Regions from separate parts of the Homo sapiens genome. Here region 2 is linked to region 1. A link means that fine-mapping ties the variant in region 1 to the expression of a gene that starts in the linked region. Tissue or cell type: whole blood. Region 1 holds a variant in brackets; the other region holds the start of a gene. All regions are shown on one strand. Distances are between the middles of the regions.

Region 1 (8,103 bases):
TGTGGGATTGAGCCCTTGACCTGTGGTATCTGATGCTGTCTCCAGGTAGGTAGCAGCAGAATTGAATTGCTTATTGGTAGGGAGAATTCCCCACACATTTAGTCACAGAAATCTTCTGTGTTGGTTGTTGTGTGAGAGCAGAGGAATAGACTCATAATATGTCTTTTGCGTCTGCTGCTTTTTACTGAGCATAATGTTTTCAAGGTTCCTCCAGGTTGGAGCATGCACCAGCACTTCCTTAGTTTCATTGCAGAATGCTGTTATATTCTATAGATATAACACGTTTTGCTTATCCATTCGTCAGTGATGGACATTTGAGTTGTTTCTACTGTTGTTTCTACTGTTTCAACTGTTGTTGCTCATAGCAACAATAATGCTGCTATGAGCATTTGTGTACAAGTTTTTTTTGTGGACATACATTTTCATTTCTCTTGATTATATATCTAGGAGTGTAATTGCTGTGTTATATGGTGACTTTATGTGTTTATTGGCTGTTAGTATATCTTCTTTGGACAAATATCTATTCAAATCCTTTACCTATTTTTTGATTGGGTTGTCTTTTTACTGTTGCATTATGAGAGTTCTTTATATATTCTGTATATAAGTTCCTTATCAGATAATTGCAAATATTTTCTCCCATCTATATCATTTCTTTCTTAATAAGTTCTTTGAAGCACAAAAATTTTTTGTTTTGTTTTGTTTTGAGACAGAGTCTCGCTCTGTCACTCAGGCTGGAGTGCGGTGGTGCGATCTCAGCTCACTGCAACCTCTGTCTCCTGGGTTCAAGGGATTCTCCTGTCTCAGCCTCCCAAGCAGCTGGGACTACAGGCATGCATGACCATGCCCAGCTAATTTTTGTATTTTTAGTAGAAACGGCGTTTCGCCATGTTAGCTAGGCTGGTCTCGAACCCCTGACCTCAAGTGATCCGCCTGCCTCAGCCTCCTAAAGCACTGAGATTACAGGCGTGAGCTACCGCTCCTGGCCAGATTTTTTATTTTGATGAAATCCAATTTGTGGTTTTTATTTTGTTGTTTATACTTGTGGTGTCATAACTAAGAATACATTGCTTGAATCAAGGTTACAAAGATTTACTTCATGGAAGTTATAAAACTTCTAAGTATCTTATAGTTTTGTCTCTTACATTCAGGTCTTTGATCCATTTTGAATTTTGTTTGTATATGTCTATGCAACTTCATTCCTCTTTAGACGTGGAACTCTAGTTGTCCCAGCACCTTCAGTTGAAAAGACTGTTCTTTTCCCTGCTGAATGGAGTTGGCACCCATTTAAATAGAAATATTCTTTTAAAGCAAGCTTGTCCAACTCCCAGCCCGTGGGCCACATGTGGCCCAGGACAGCTTTGAATGTGGCCCAACACAAGTTTGTAAACTTTGTTAAAACATTATGAGATGTTTTTGCGATTTTTTTTTTTTTAAAGCTCATCAGCTGTCGTTAGTGTTAGTGTATTTTATGTGTGGCCCTAGACAATTCTTCCAATGTGGCCCAGGGAAGCCAAAATATTGGACATCCCTGTTTTAAACCAAAAATCAAAACACTTGGATATTTTGGACAGCTCAGAGGAGCTTTCACAAAAATTGTTTAAACAATTGAATGTCTCTACCAAATAACGTACTATTCTTAAAGTTGACTTAGTGTCAGTTACAGAATTCTAAGTTGAATTTCAAGACCTAATGTTGACTGGCTGGCAGTTTTCCTTCTTTTTGTATTTAATATATTTTGTTTGTTTGTTTGTTTTTAGAGATAGGGTCTCGCTCTGTCACCCAGGCTGGAGTGGAGTGGCACGATCATAGCTTACTGAAGCCTTGACCTCCTGGGCTCAGGCTATCCTTCCACCTCAGCCTCCGGGGTAGCTGGTACTACAGACATGTGCCACCACACCCTGATAGCTTTTAAATTTTTTGTGGAGATGTGGTTTCACTATGTTGCCCGGGCTGGTCTCAAACTCCTGGCCTCAAACAATCCTTAAGCCTTGGCACCCCAAAGTGCTAGGATTATAGGCATGAGCCACCGTGCTTGGCTTTTAATATCTTCTTATGCCGTTTTATGTAAGAGAGAAAGGTGAAGAATGGGTATTTACCAGAATTAGAAATGTGCGTTAGTGTTGGCTCTGTCGTTCTGTCAAAGTGTGGACAGCAAATAGCTGTCCTGGCCGTTCCTGGGTGGAGTTGGGGATGTTGAGCCATCTGCTGAAGGGCAGCTCTTCCCGTGAGTCATCTTAAGGGAAGTTTAAAAATCTCAGCTGGGTGTGGTGGCTCACGCCTGTAATACCAGCACTTTGGGAGGCTGAGGTGGGCAGATCATGAGGTCAGGAGTTTGAGACCAGCCTGGCCAACATAATGAAACCCTGTCTCTACTAAAAATACAAAAATTAACCAGGTGTGATGGCATGCACCTGTAGTCCTAGCTACTCGGGAGGCTGAGGCAGGGGAATTGCTTGAACCTGGGATGGGAGGTTGCACTGAGCCGAGATCACACCACTGCACTCCAGCCTGGACTACAGAGCAAGACTCCGTATCAAAAAAAAAAAATCTCCAGCTGTTGTGGCAGCTCTGCTGGGCAGCACTTAACTATGTGTCAGATTCAGTGACTGCGGATAGCAAAATGTCATGATTTACTTAAACAGGATCATGTGGAAGGGGCCACTTTGGGAAGAACAGATGAAATTGGTGTTTTACGATTGTCAGTTCAGTGCCTGTTAATTGGGCTATTGCAGCAACTGAATACTGATAGTTAATGAGGTGATGCTATTGTTTTCTGGGAGAAAACCCAACTCAGAGGCAATTGGGTATTTAATATTGCCTTAATAATGACATTAAAGGAAAAAAATGAACATTTTCCTTTGAGCCTGAGAAATTAAAAAAAAAATAGCATAAAATGAAGCAACAGTAGTATTTTTGCTGTCAATGTTAGGGCTGTTTGTCTTCCTTAAATATATCAGTGGAAAAACTTGGAGTGTAGTTGGAGGTAGGAAGAACTACCGAATTAACTTAAAACTTTTGATTTCTAAAGTGAAAACCCAGGGGTAAAGATTGCATTCCCTAATTATATCCAGAATATATTGCTTGTTTACCTTTAATTTGTAAGGAGCAAGTTTTTGTTTGTTGTTCAGTTTGTTTTTAAAGAATATGTTCTGCTGTTTACTTTTGCTGACCTATCTCTTCTCAGTGGAGCAGGCCAGAGGTGAATGCAGGACACTCTAAGCCCTCTCTCTTGGTGTCCCTTAAGTGTATTCTGAGCATATTTGGGCCAAGAGGAAGTTTCTGATAAATAATATAGAAGATATTTTTATGTAACAGTTATTTCTGGGTAATTCACACTATGTTTCAGAGCTTGGATTTTCTTCGGGTAGGTGTGGACATGGAGTGTAGTTCTAACTTTACAACCAGAGCACCTGCTTTGAGACAAATTCATGAGCAACCATGTAGGCCAGCAAGCACCTTTTTTTCCACAGGCAGCGTCCTTGTGAACTTTCCGCTTGGATCCTGACTCTGCTGTTAGTAGCCTATGACCTTGGATGAAATGTAAGGGAATAGAAACTGAAGCTATCTGTAAAGTGAAAGAGCTGGTGCCTGCCTTATTGGGAGCCTCTGGGTTTATGTATGAGTCAGATGCGTAGAGTTGCTCACCATGGAGGGCCCAGGGTAGGCAGGCATTATTGAACAACTGCTCCATGTGCTCTTTTCAATCTTTGCAGACCCCACCCACGTCTCCCTTGCTCAGACCTGGCTCCCCATGGCTTATGAAAGGGGGCTGAGTGCAGAAGGTGGCAGGCAGGACACTGGACAACCCTCTGTGGCTTTTCCTTACCCTTCGTAGTACCATGAGATTCTGGCTCTTCCCGTCTCTGTGTTTCTGCCTATGGGTCCTTCCACATGCAGTGCCTCGTCTTCCCTCCTTCCCATCCATGTCCTTTTGTCTTCAGGCACACCCACTTGGAAGGAGCCCATCCTCTCACAGGGTCTGCTGGCATATTCTGCACCTCTCAAGTACTCATATTTCCTCTGCAATCTTTTCTATGTTGTTTTTCCTCTGCTCAAGGGTAAATTGAGAGTAAGGAAAGTATTTTTCTAATTTCTTTGTATTTTCCATAATATTGTAAGTACAGCAGGTACTCAGTAGTTTCTGGACAGATTAGAAAATGTTTTACTTATTCTCCAATTAATCCTAATCCTAATTCTAAATTAATTAATCCTTGTTGCCTTTCTTCTAATTGTTTTATATATATGTAATATGTAAATTTAAAGAACATCGTATGTTTATCATCTTAGCCCTTAAACTAGATTTAATGGTTTTTTGTTTTGTTTTGTTTTGAGACAGAGTCTCACTCTGTTGCTAGGCTGGAGTGCAGTGGTGCAATCTCGGCTCACTGCAGCCTCCACCTACCAGGTTCAAGCAATTCTCCTGCCTCAGCCTCCCAAGTATCTGGGTCTACAGGCATGCACCACCACACCCAGCTAATTTTTGTATTTTTAGTAGAGATGTGGTTTCACCATGTTGGCCAGGATGGTCTTGATCTCCTGACCTCGTGATCCACCCGCCTTGGCCTCCCAAAGTGCTGGGATTACAGGTGTGAGCCACCGAGTCTGGCCTAGATTTAAATTTTT[A/G]AGTGAAGATGGTAATATCTGCAACTGTGCACTCACCTTCCTTGGGCTCGCACAGGCATCCTGTGTTAGTAGGTGCAAGAGTGTGTTTCAGTTTCACACAGTCACAGCTCTGTTGTGCTCTCAGGCACATGAACTGGTGGCACTGAGCAGGTAGCACTCTTGTGAATACATTTATAGGCCAGGGTCTTTCTCCTCAACAATTAGAGTTGAACATGTTTTGTTTTTGTTTTTGTTTTTCTAGTAGCTTTTAAAAAAAAATTATCCTTTCTCTAGAGCATCAGGATCTAGTAGCCTTGTCTCCTAAATACTCATTTTTAAAACCTTTCTTTCTTGTTTTTTTTTTTTTTTTTTTGTACAGGCAGTTGTGAAAAACTTCAGGACAAAAATGTTTCATTTAAGGACTTGTGCTGCTAAGTTGAGGCCATTGACGGCTTCCCAGACTGTTAAGACATTTTCACAAAACAGACCAGCAGCAGCTAGGACATTTCAACAGATTCGGTGCTATTCTGCACCTGTTGCTGCTGAGCCCTTTCTCAGTGGGACTAGTTCGAACTATGTGGAGGAGATGTACTGTGCTTGGCTGGAAAACCCCAAAAGTGTACATAAGGTAAGGCTCGCAGGGCTGTGGGTCTGCCTCATGTTGGTGTGTTGGCCTGTTCCTGACTGGTCACCAGGTAAGTGTGTGCGTCCTGAGGAGTCAGCGGGCAGACAGGCAGCTGGAGCGCCATACCAACCACCGTATCTGTATCGGACCCAGCATAGCCCCAGCAGAAGCCATGGTCCCTGGATTGGCGTCCAGCAGTAGACACTGTGCTTAACTCTGCGAGGATGTGAAGAAGCATGTGTGTGACCCTCCAGCATCTCCGCAAGGGCTGCTTCAGGATGAAGCCGCTGAAGAAAGAAGAAAGAAAGAAAGTGTGTGGAAAAGAGCAGGACCTCAGGAAGCTCCTCCATTCTAACTGTCTGGAGAGGATACTTTCATTTGTAACATGCCGTAGTCACCTCATGTAATTTCTGTATGAATGGCCTTTTAGCTCATTATGTTCGTATTTTTTTCCTGTTTGTTTCTAACTTCTCTGTATTACATATAAGGGCATTTTCTAAACTTTTCACCACATGATTACTGATGTAAGTCATGTCTTGTTTTTTTTGGTTTGTTTTTGTTTTTGTTTGTTTTGTTTTGTTTCAGACAGAGTCCCACTGTTGTCCAGGCTGGAGTGCAGTGGCGGGATCTCGGCTTGCTGCAACCTCCGACTCCTGGGTTCAAGTGATTCTTATGCCTCAGCCTCCCGAGTAACTGGGACTACAGGTGCACGTCACCACGCCTGACTAGTTTTTGTATTTTTAGTAGAGATGGGATTTTACTTTGTTGGCCAGGCTGGTCTTGAACCCCTGGCCTCAAGTGATCCACCCACCTTGGCCTCCCAAAGTGCTGGGATTACAGGTATGATCAACCACGCCTGGCCATGTCATGCCTTGTGACAGAATTCCTTTATTCTGTTTTGAGCCAATAAATATTTATAGGTTTTGATAACCATTCCTTGATTTTCAGGGAAAGCAGCCAGCCTCCTGAAGGAATTGGGAAGACAGTGTAGTATAGTAATAAGAGGGTAGGTCCCAGCGTTTCTAAGCTCCTGTGCCTCATCTGTAGGTGGTTGAGAGAATGAAAGGAGGTAGCATGAGCAGGGCACTCAGCTCGGAGGCAGTGCCTAGCCAACATTGCTTATCTTCACTGTGAATTTGGCTTTTTTCCTACTCTTGAATCTTGGGGGCTTATCACCAAAAGGAAGTCTGCTTCCACTGGGCTCCTGTAAACAAGCTTTCCCTTTAAGTATTAGTGACACTTACGAATTTTTTTTTTTAATTTAGCTAGGTGTGGTGGCACATGCCTGCAGTTCTAGCTACTCCACAGGCTGAGGTGGGAGGATTGCTGAAGCCCAGGAATTCGAGGTTACAGTGCGCTGTGATGGTGCCACTGCACTCCATCCTGGGCAACAGAGGGAGACCCTGTCTCTAAAATTTAAAAGAAGGTGGGGGGCGGGTATATTCCCATGACTGCTGGGCCACCAGGTCCCATTTTTTCAGGAATGCCACTTTGTCTCAGCCTTATTGCCCAGATCTAGCCCAGTCCTTCCCTGTTTCCATGGCAACCTGGGAGCAGCCTTGCTTACTGGGCAAGGTGAGACCTGGTTTTCTGTAAGAAATCTGTAGTTTATTTCCCTAGTCTGTAAACAAATTGCCCAGAAGAAGTGCTCTGTGAAACTGGCCCCTGCTTTTGATGTGATATCATGGATGTTACTGAAGACTGTGGTTGCAGATTGTGGCAGATTTCACACACACACACCCCTACACACACACACACACACACACACACCCCTACACACACACACACACACACACACCCCTACACCTGCAGATTATATCTAGAATAAAACTGAGCCCTGAGGTTTCAGAATCAAGGACTATTATGTGCCCAGGCCTATTCTTTTGCCTTCCTTTTCTCAAACATAACCTTTTCTTGGAACCAACCAAGTTGTTTTCAGTGATGTTAGGATTTGGAGTCAGTAGCTCCTAAATGACAGTGCCTAGTGTCTGAAAGGTAAAGAGCACCTGGCTGAGACTGCATGTCCTTGTGAAGGTTTGGTCCTCAGTGATTCATGGGTAAAAGGTGCACTCTGTGAGCAGTGTGGCCACAGTGCTGTGGACACTGGGCCTGTTGCCATCATAGCTGCTCCTGCTGGAAGCTTTTGAAGATGGTTTTTGTGGGGGCATGGTGGCTTTATGTCTTTATGCCTGTTTCTGTTGCTGGGAGTCTCCAGGGGGCACAGTGTGGGAATCACATGCATGCTCTGCCCCTCCCTGCTTGTAGAGGGGAGGGGACAGGATGGTTAAAAGTGGGCGTGCCCTCCAGCAATCCCGGTTGTCATCCAGCACGGACTTCATCACTCCTCTGCCATCCCAGACGGCAAGGTGGGTCCTCTTTAAGTTGAATTGGGCCCAGTATGTGGTGTGTGCATGTTTTTTGTTTGTTTGTTTTTTTGTTTTGTTTTGTTTTTGAGATGGAGTCTCACTCTGTCGCTCAGACTGGAGTGCAGTGGTGCAATCTCAGCTCACTGCAACCTCCACCTCCGAGGCTCAAGCGATTCTCCTGCCTCAGCCTCCTGAGTAGCTGGGATTACAGGCCTGTGCCACCACGCCCGGCTAATTTTTGTATTTTTAGTAGAGACGGGGTTTCACCATGTTAGTCGGGCTGGTCTTGAACTCCTGGCCTCGTGATCCGCCTGCCTTGGCCTCCCAGAGTGCTGGGATTACAGGCGTGAGCCACGGCGCCTGGCCATGTGCATGTTTTTCAAGGGAGATAATCCATAACTTCTGTCCAAATTTCAAAGCATCTGTCACCCATGAAAGTTTAGGATCCATAGCCTTAGAGGCATTTCACTTTATTTGTGCTCTTATTTTAGATCACATAGTTTAAATAGA
Region 2 (8,103 bases), 50 kb before region 1:
AGCACCCTGGGGTCAGGTGCTGTCCTGAGCTGTCACAGCAGCCTGTCAGGTCACTCAACGCTCATGAGGCAGACAGTAAACACAACTTTGGACAAATTACCTCAATTTGTTTATCTCTCAAGGGGGACAGTGCCTGCCACTCAGGGCAGAACAAGGATGGATGGTGGAAGTGGCCTGTCACACTATGTTGTGACCTCTGTCATCATTATCATGGAGTTTTAAAGCATTGTGGAAGAAGCCTGACCCTGGCCCAGGACCACAAGAGCCAGGCTCTTACCTCCACTGAGAAGCTCCTCAATCTTGCCTAAGTGGAACTGCTCCGTGGGAAGCACAAAGGTTAAGACTATGCCTGGGTTGTTAGCGCGTGCTGTCCTGCAAGGGAAGACAGTGCAGCTTGCATCTCCAACCCGCAGGCTCTGTCCAGCACACCCCAAGTCCCTCAGTGTGCCTACCATGCAGATGCCTGGGCCGTCACACTACTACCTGCCAGCTCGATGGATGTAGGCCTCAGGGGTTGGGGGAAGATCAAAGTTGAGCACAGCAGACACATGGTGGAAGTCTATGCCCCGGGCCACACCTGCTTCCGGATCAGAGGCCCTGCAGAGATAACTCAATGTCAGCCGGACCCTTCCTCTCCTCTGGGCACGTATTCACACGCTGAATCAGCAAAACTTCCTCTAAATGCCTGTAGATCATAAGACCCTGACATACAGAGGACTCTCCAACAATGGAACCGTTCCAGGAGTCAGGGTTTCCTGGGGCAGCCTGGAGCTTTGACATGTACCCAAATCTCGGCCTGACCTCTGTTCTGGGACAACAGCAGAACTCATTGCCCTACATGGTGATCTGAAAACCAACTCTGAGCTAGTCAAGCCTTCAGCTGGACAGAGACTGGAGAGTTGGGGGGTTCCTTTTCCCTTCAGAAATATGCTCCCTGCAAGTCACAGCCATACCACCAATGCAGGATGGGCCATCTCCCCTGCAGGGCTCTGCATGCCAACAACCCCGGCAGTTTTGCCCTTCGTGGTGCATGTGCAGTGTGCACCATCCACTCCCTTCTCTATATCCAGGCAGCTGAGCAAGAACCTGTGGGGCTCTCTGGGCTACACTACCAGCCAGGCCTGGAAGGTTTGGCTCCCTGCTCTGTGCACTCTGGTTTTAGTCTTCCAAAAAGCTAAAAACACAGGCATTTCTGGGGAGGGATGGAAAAAGAGGCATGGACTCACTTGTCCCCTTTGGGCCCTCGGCCCCGACGCTTGCCCTTGACTGGGGCCCCCAGGACTTCAGCATCAGTTGCTATGACACAGTCGTAGAAGCCTTGGTTGAACTGTGAGATGATGTGGCACCTGCAGCCAAGAGCGGACAGAGAATCAGCTCAGCAGAGCAAGCTCAAGGCCCCTCTGCCATCCCTAGTATCACAGTAACCATCACCCTTTCCTTTTTCCTCTTCTTAATCTCTTTCCCTACTTAATCATTGTGCCTCAGTTTCCTCAGCTGGAAATAATTATAGGGTTTTGTTTTTTTGAGACAGAGTTTCACTCCTGTTGCCCAGGCTGGAGTGCAATGGCACGATCTTGGCTCACTGCAACCTCCACCTCCCGGGCTCAAGCAATTCTCCTATCTCAGCTTCCTGAGTAGCTGGGATTACAGGTGCCTGCCACCATGTCCAGCTAATTTTTGTATTTTTAGTAGAGACGGGGTTTCACCATGCTGGCCAGGCTGGTCTTGAACTCCCGACCTCAGGCGATCCGCCCACCTCGGCCTCCCAAAGTGCTGAGATTACAGCAGGCATAAGCCATGGTGCCCGGCCATGATAGGTATTTTGGAGTTGGGAGAAGTCAGTATCAGTCACATCTAGAACCTGGCCCCTACTAAGTGCTTAAGAAACAGAACATTAACTGGGTCCCCTTTCCATCTCTATCTTCAACTTATTTCAACCAAGATGTTGGCTGTGGCAGACCTGGAGCGCAGTGGAAGCTCTCCATTGAGCACACAGGTGGGGATGCTGAACTGTTCCAAGAACAGGCGTAGCCGGTAACTCCGTTCTAGAGTGTTGACAAAGAGCAGAGACTTGCCCCGAATCAATGACAGCTTGAGCAGGGCATACAGCAGGAGGAATTTGTCTTCCTCAGTCTCACAGACCACCTGAAACTGCTGTAACTGGTCTGGCCCAGGCAGCTGGGACTCCTGTAACTTAAGGGTAACCTGGGGGAGAAAACAGGCCTGTGGTCAGAAAGGAAAAGAACACAGAGATGTATGGCCACTTACTCACCAACCAAAGCATCAACATTTTAGTGCAGGGCAGAGATGCATTTAAGGATTCCTGGCACCCTAACTCTCCTCCAGTTTTGTAACCTAAAACCCCAAAATGCCCTTATTGTTGTGGTATATAGAGTATACCATATAAACCATATATAAAATACTTCCAAGCACAGAACAAAGAGAAACACATCAATAAAGGACTACATTGAGAAGGGAAGGCCTACAGCAACAGGCCTTCTGAAAGGTAAAGTTTACTTAAGATGAGAACCTTGGCCTTAGAATTTTGGCTCTGCTGCTCAAAGCTGCCCCTTAGGGGAGGTCCTTGCTCAGGATTTTAGGCAAAGCATGGCCTGAAATGGGAGACATCCCTTGTGGACACTTGGAAATATATAGTGATTTTAGACCACTGGCTTTTAGTGCCTCAGGACCAGGGATGAGACACTAAGTGACAACTGTCCCACCCAAAACACCAAAGAATCCCCTAAGAAGGAGCATCAAGATCTTTGAGTGCCCCCATGTCTGCAGCTCCAGACACTTCCATGGTGCCTCTTACCGGGTTATGTAATATCAGCTCCTTGAGTGCTTGTACGTCCTCGTTAAAAGTAGCTGACATGAGAAAAGCCTGGTAAATCCGGGGCAAGTGACTGAAATGAAAGAATCCAATCAGATTCCAGCTCCAAGGGCCGCTAATTGTAGTAACTGGCTTCCAGCCACCCCGCTCTCGTCCCAACTCCTACTCACAGATGTTTCCACTAGGAATCACACCCACCTCTGCCTTACCAGAGGAGACTCTTGAGCTCTTCTTCAAAGCCAAAGGAAAAAAGAAGGTCAGCTTCGTCCACCACCAAAAGCTCCAGGGAGTCACGAAGTTTCAGGCTGTCTTGCTGCAAGTGGCTTAATATGCGAGATGGGGTCCCTACTACCACATCTGGCTTCTCCATCAGCACAGCTCTGGAGGTGGACAAGACATCAGTATCAGGCAGAATGTAGCAGCTGGGATCTCACCCTGGATTTGCTCTCTTTTTTGCCACACACAAACCCAACCCCACAACACTGTGTAGCTTCATTCAGGTACAGCTTTGCTGCTTTTACCCACCTCTGAGAGACTGAGTCTTCAGCAGCTGAGACATTGGCCACTCGGACATCCCGAGCACAGTAGGTAGCCAGCTGCTGAATCATGGACTGTGCTTGCCGTGCCAGCTCCTTGGTAGGAACAAGAACAAGGCCTCTCACTGCCTGTTCTACCACCGGACCTGTCTGTAAGAATATGAATTAAAGACTTTAGCCAGCAGTGCACATCACTGTGTCCACGTGTCTCTACCCCTTCCAGCCTACCTGACCCATCTGCTGCAACACTACTTAGCAGTACTTTGATCATCTATCACTCTGCCCGCCTCAGAATGCAGAGTGGAGAGTTCTTTCCCCAGGCACTGACCCTCAAAAAGAATAACGTACTCTGATGTTTATGAAGCTACTTTAAATATACTAGTTATGAAGCTAAATTCTCACAATAATTCTGTAAGTAGAAAAGATAGATGTGCTCCCTTTTTATGTAAGAAAGAAAAGAAAGTGCTTTGTCGAAGATTACGCAAAGGTTGGTGGTAGCAGGGCCGGACAAGGATCCAGGTAACCTGAACTCCAGCCCAGAGTGTTTGCCACAACAGCACCAGGTTCTCAGGCCGGCCTGCACGGGTACAGGGCCAAGAGAAAACCTCAGACAAACGGGAACCGCCCTTCCCAGGCTTTTGGAGCTTGCCTCCTTCCTCCCCTCAGCTCTCTCGTTACCCACCGCCTTCCTATGGAGCAACAGCTGCAGCATCGGAATAGCATAAGCGGCCGTCTTCCCGGAGCCCGTGCGGGCCCGAGCCAGGAGGTCCTTCCCTTCTAGGGCCAGTGGGATGGCCTTCTCCTGGATCAGCGTAGGTCGCGACCAGCCCAGATCGGTGACAGCCTAGGAGACCAGGAGTGCGGTTTAAGCGGCGTGAAGAGCGATGGCGCGCCCCGCAGAGCCCGTAAGCCGGCTCCCCAGCCCTCGCGTGTACCTGAAGGAGCCGGGGATCGAGGCCCATGTGTTCGAAGCCCAGTGCTTCAGAGTCCTCCATGGCGCTGCTCAGTAGCGCAGCACGCACGCGCTGCAGGAAAAACGCCACCGACGCGAGCGGGAGCAAAGCAACAACCAATCGGCTTCGGAGACGAAGTCACTTCCCGGAAGTGCTGGCGGCCTAGGCTTCCGGTACTCGGACGGAGCTCTGCGACTGCGCAGTCCCTAGGACTGGGTCTAGTAGGAGGCGGTGGAGCGGCCGTGCTGGGGTCGACGGGGTACTTTGGACTACAGAGCCGCTCCACTGGCTCTTCCGGCGTTCCCGGACGCCGCTGACGCACCTGATTCTCGCGACCTGCAGGAGAAGCCTCGGCCGGGGCGAGGGCCGAGGTCGTGACGGGCATGACCGTCTCTCTGCTTGGTTAGGGTTAGTGTCCCGCCGGGCACATCACCCTATGAATGGAGCCACTGAGATAGACTGGGCTGAGGAGAACCGGTTGGAATAATGAGCCATGGCAGCAACTGCCTGAGAGAGAGGACCGGCGGGTTGCTGTAGGGCTCCCTAACCGGACTGCCTGTCAGAAACCTGCACAGCTTGGTTTCTGTTCTTTGTGTCCCAAATCTGACTCGGGTCACCAGTTAAGACCCGTGTCAGACTTCTGACCTACAGACTTGCGTCGTTTTAAGCCAGTAAATTTGTGGTAATTTGTTACAGTAGCAATAGGAAAATAATACAGGTGAGGACTAAGAATCCTAATCACAAATCTTTTTTTTTTTTTGAGACATGGTCTGACTGTCACCCAGGCTGGCGCGATCTCAGGCTCAAGTGGTCCTCCCACCTCAGTCTCCTGGAAAGCTAAGACTACAGGCACGCACCACCACGTCCAGTTAGCGTGTATGTATGTATGTACGTACGTGTGTGTGTGTGTGTATGTGTATATATGTAACTCCTCCTCCCCTCCCCCCTCCCCTTCTCTTCTTTTCTTTCTAGATGGGGTTTCGCCACGTTGCCCAGGACGGTTTTGAACTCCTGGGGCCAAGCGATCTGCCTTCCTCGGCCTCCCAAAGTGCTGGGATTGCAGGTGCGAGCCACTGCTCCTGGCCCATAAGTCTTTCAGTGTAGAAGAGGGAAGCAGAAGAGGTCAAAGTGGTGCCATGTGAGAGCTCAACCCACCCTTGCTGGAGGAAGGGAGCCAGAGCCAAGCTGGAAAAGGCAAGGAAACAACCTTTGTGATTACATTAGGCCCATCCAGATGATCCAGGATAATTTATTTTACAGTCATCTGATTAGCAACTTAATTCTCTTCTGTCATGTTAGGTAACATATTCATATGTTTCAGAGTGGTAGGCCATTATTCTACCTACCATACCACCCAACACAAATCTACATTAAGACTATATCTGAGTGTTGCACAGGAATCTATGTCAACAAGCTTCCAGGATGATCCTGTGCATCCTATCTGATGCAGCCCAGCATCTGAGTACCAGAGACTAGCATCTGGCTGTTAGGTTAGGAGAGATCAGCTCATGCACCAACAGGTAGTCATGCTGGGACCAAATGATGAAGATAGGTACAACTAGTCCCAGTGAGAGCTGGGGAATTGGGCTGGGATAATAGAGGATGTTAAGAATGGAGTGTCCCCTCAACCCCAGAACTTTTTTTTCTTTTTTTGTGGTAAGGAGGGAGAAGGCTGTTTGGTAAGGATGTTGTAAACTCTGAGAAAGCAAGAATTTCAAAAGTCAAGGGTAGTATTGGGGGGAAAATCACTAGAATTTGTGTGTGTGTACCCTAACTACTGTTTTGGTTTTGTTTTTGTTTTTTAGAAGGAGTCTCACTCTGTCGCCCAGGCTGGAGTGCAGTGGCATGATCTCAGCTCACTGCAAGCTCCACCTCCCGAGTTCACGCCATTCTCTTGCCTCAGCCTCCCGAGTAGCTGGGACTACAGGCACCTGCCACCACGCCCGGCTAATTTTTTGTATTTTTAGTAGAGACAGGGTTTCACCGTTGTTAGCCAGGATGGTCTCGATCTCCTGACCTTGTGATCCGCCCGCCTCGGCCTCCCAAAGTGCTGGGATTACAGGCGTGAGCCACCGCGCCCAGGCCCTAACTGCTGTTTTTTAAAAAACTTTTTAGGTCACAACCTATCTGTAAATATGACACACCAGTATGGAAATCCTTATTCTTCTCACAGCCACCAGCTATTGGCCCATCCACTGACTATCCCAATTCCACCTGCCTTATCAGTGGAAAGGTGAAATGTATGCCCACTTTTTCCTCACACCATTCCCCTTTCTATCAAAAACTACCAAGAGAAACCCAGGACCTACCAAAATAGTTAAGATGTGCTCCACTGTGTCTACTGCCAGCCAAACCTGTTGAAGGCTGGCTCAACCCTAATCTGTGCCTTCCTGTCTTCTCACAAACGTAGTCTGATTTGCTGGCTAGATTTCTAGTAACAGCCACAGAGCAGAAATGTGTCCCTTCCCAATATGTCACATAATCCCCAAGAGCCTCAGGCCAGAAGTCCACAACATGTAACTAGTTCAAAGGATAAAATTTTTCTCTGCATTAATTCTAACATGAGGAATACTGAAAACTCTTTTAAACATCTGAAGAATTTCAGCAATTCACAATTCACCTTACTGGAGTGTTACACTGTCATCCAGATTTAGAAACAGGAGGATATAAAACTATTAAATGGAAAAGCCTAGAGAACTAAATTGCATTTTTTTTTTTTTTTCTGAGACAGAGTCTCCCTCTGCCCCCCAGGCTGGAGTGCAGTGGCTCGATTTCTGCTCACTGCAACCTCCTCCCGGGTTCAAGCGATTCTCCTGCCTTAGCTTCCTGAATAGCTGGGATTACAGGCACACACTACCATGCCTGGCTAATTTTTATACTTTTAGTAGAGAGGGGTTTTCACCATGTTGGCCAGCCTGGTCTCAAACTGCTGACCTCAGGCGATCCCCCTGCCTTGGCCTCCCAAAGTGCTGGGATTATAGGCGTGAGCCACCCCACCTGGCCCTAAATTGCATTTTTTTTTTTGTTTTTTTTTTTCAGATGGGATCACTGTTGCCCAGACTGGAGTGCAGTGGCACGATCATGGCTCACCGCAGCCTTGACCTCCCGGGCTCAAGTGATCTTTCCACCTCAGCCTCTCAAGTAGCTGGGACTATAGGCATGTGCCACCAGCTAAATTTTTTGTATTTTTTGCAGAGACAAGATTTCGCCATGTTGCCCAGGCTGGTCTCGAACTCCTGGGCTATAGGGATCCACCCACCTTGGCTTCCCAAAGTGCTAGGATTACAGGCGTGAGCCACCGTGCCCAGCCCACATGTATTTTTAAGAGTAAAAATAGCCAGGCACAGTGGAGTATACCTGTAGTACCAGCTACTTGGGAGGGTAAGGTAGGAGGATCACTTGAACCTGGGAGCTCAAGGTTGCTTTGAGCTGTGATGGCACCACTGCACTCCAGCCTTGGGGACAGAGCAAGACCCCATCACCTGTGCCCGGCCAGCTCACACCTGTAATCCCAGCACTTTGGGAGGCGAGACGGGTCACCTGCGGTCAGGAATTCAAGACCAGCCTGGTCAACATGGTGAAACCCTGTCTCTACTAAAAATACAAAAATTAGCTGGGCATGGTGGCGGGCGCCTATAATCCCAGCTACTCGGGAGTCTGAGGCAGGAGAATCTCTTGAACTCAGGAGGTGGAGGTTGCAGTGAGCCAAGATTGCACCACTGCACTCCAGCCTGGGCGACAGAGTGAGACTCCATCTCAAAAATAAATAAATGAATAAGAT

The links. PIP is the estimated chance that this variant, and not a neighbour inherited with it, causes the effect.
Region 2: DDX56 starts here. The variant in region 1 is fine-mapped to the expression of DDX56 in whole blood (TOPMed, PIP 0.98).

What each region holds. Positions count from the first base shown.
Region 1 is chr7:44,619,336-44,627,438 of GRCh38, forward strand. OGDH (oxoglutarate dehydrogenase) reads left to right here. Exons shown (of 23, transcript NM_002541.4): 2 at 4,982-5,230. The coding sequence starts at 5,009. Among named protein-coding and RNA genes, the nearest start is that of OGDH, 17 kb to the left of the region's middle. RefSeq lists an enhancer at 3,320-3,629 and a silencer at 4,788-4,847. The variant A/G (reference allele first, on the strand shown) is at 4,624.
Region 2 is chr7:44,569,532-44,577,634 of GRCh38, forward strand. DDX56 (DEAD-box helicase 56) reads right to left here and starts at 4,377. Exons shown (of 14, transcript NM_019082.4): 1 at 4,305-4,377; 2 at 4,052-4,213; 3 at 3,359-3,519; 4 at 3,043-3,213; 5 at 2,816-2,906; 6 at 1,961-2,205; 7 at 1,227-1,346; 8 at 484-597; 9 at 278-372. The coding sequence starts at 4,364. RefSeq lists an enhancer at 3,994-4,143.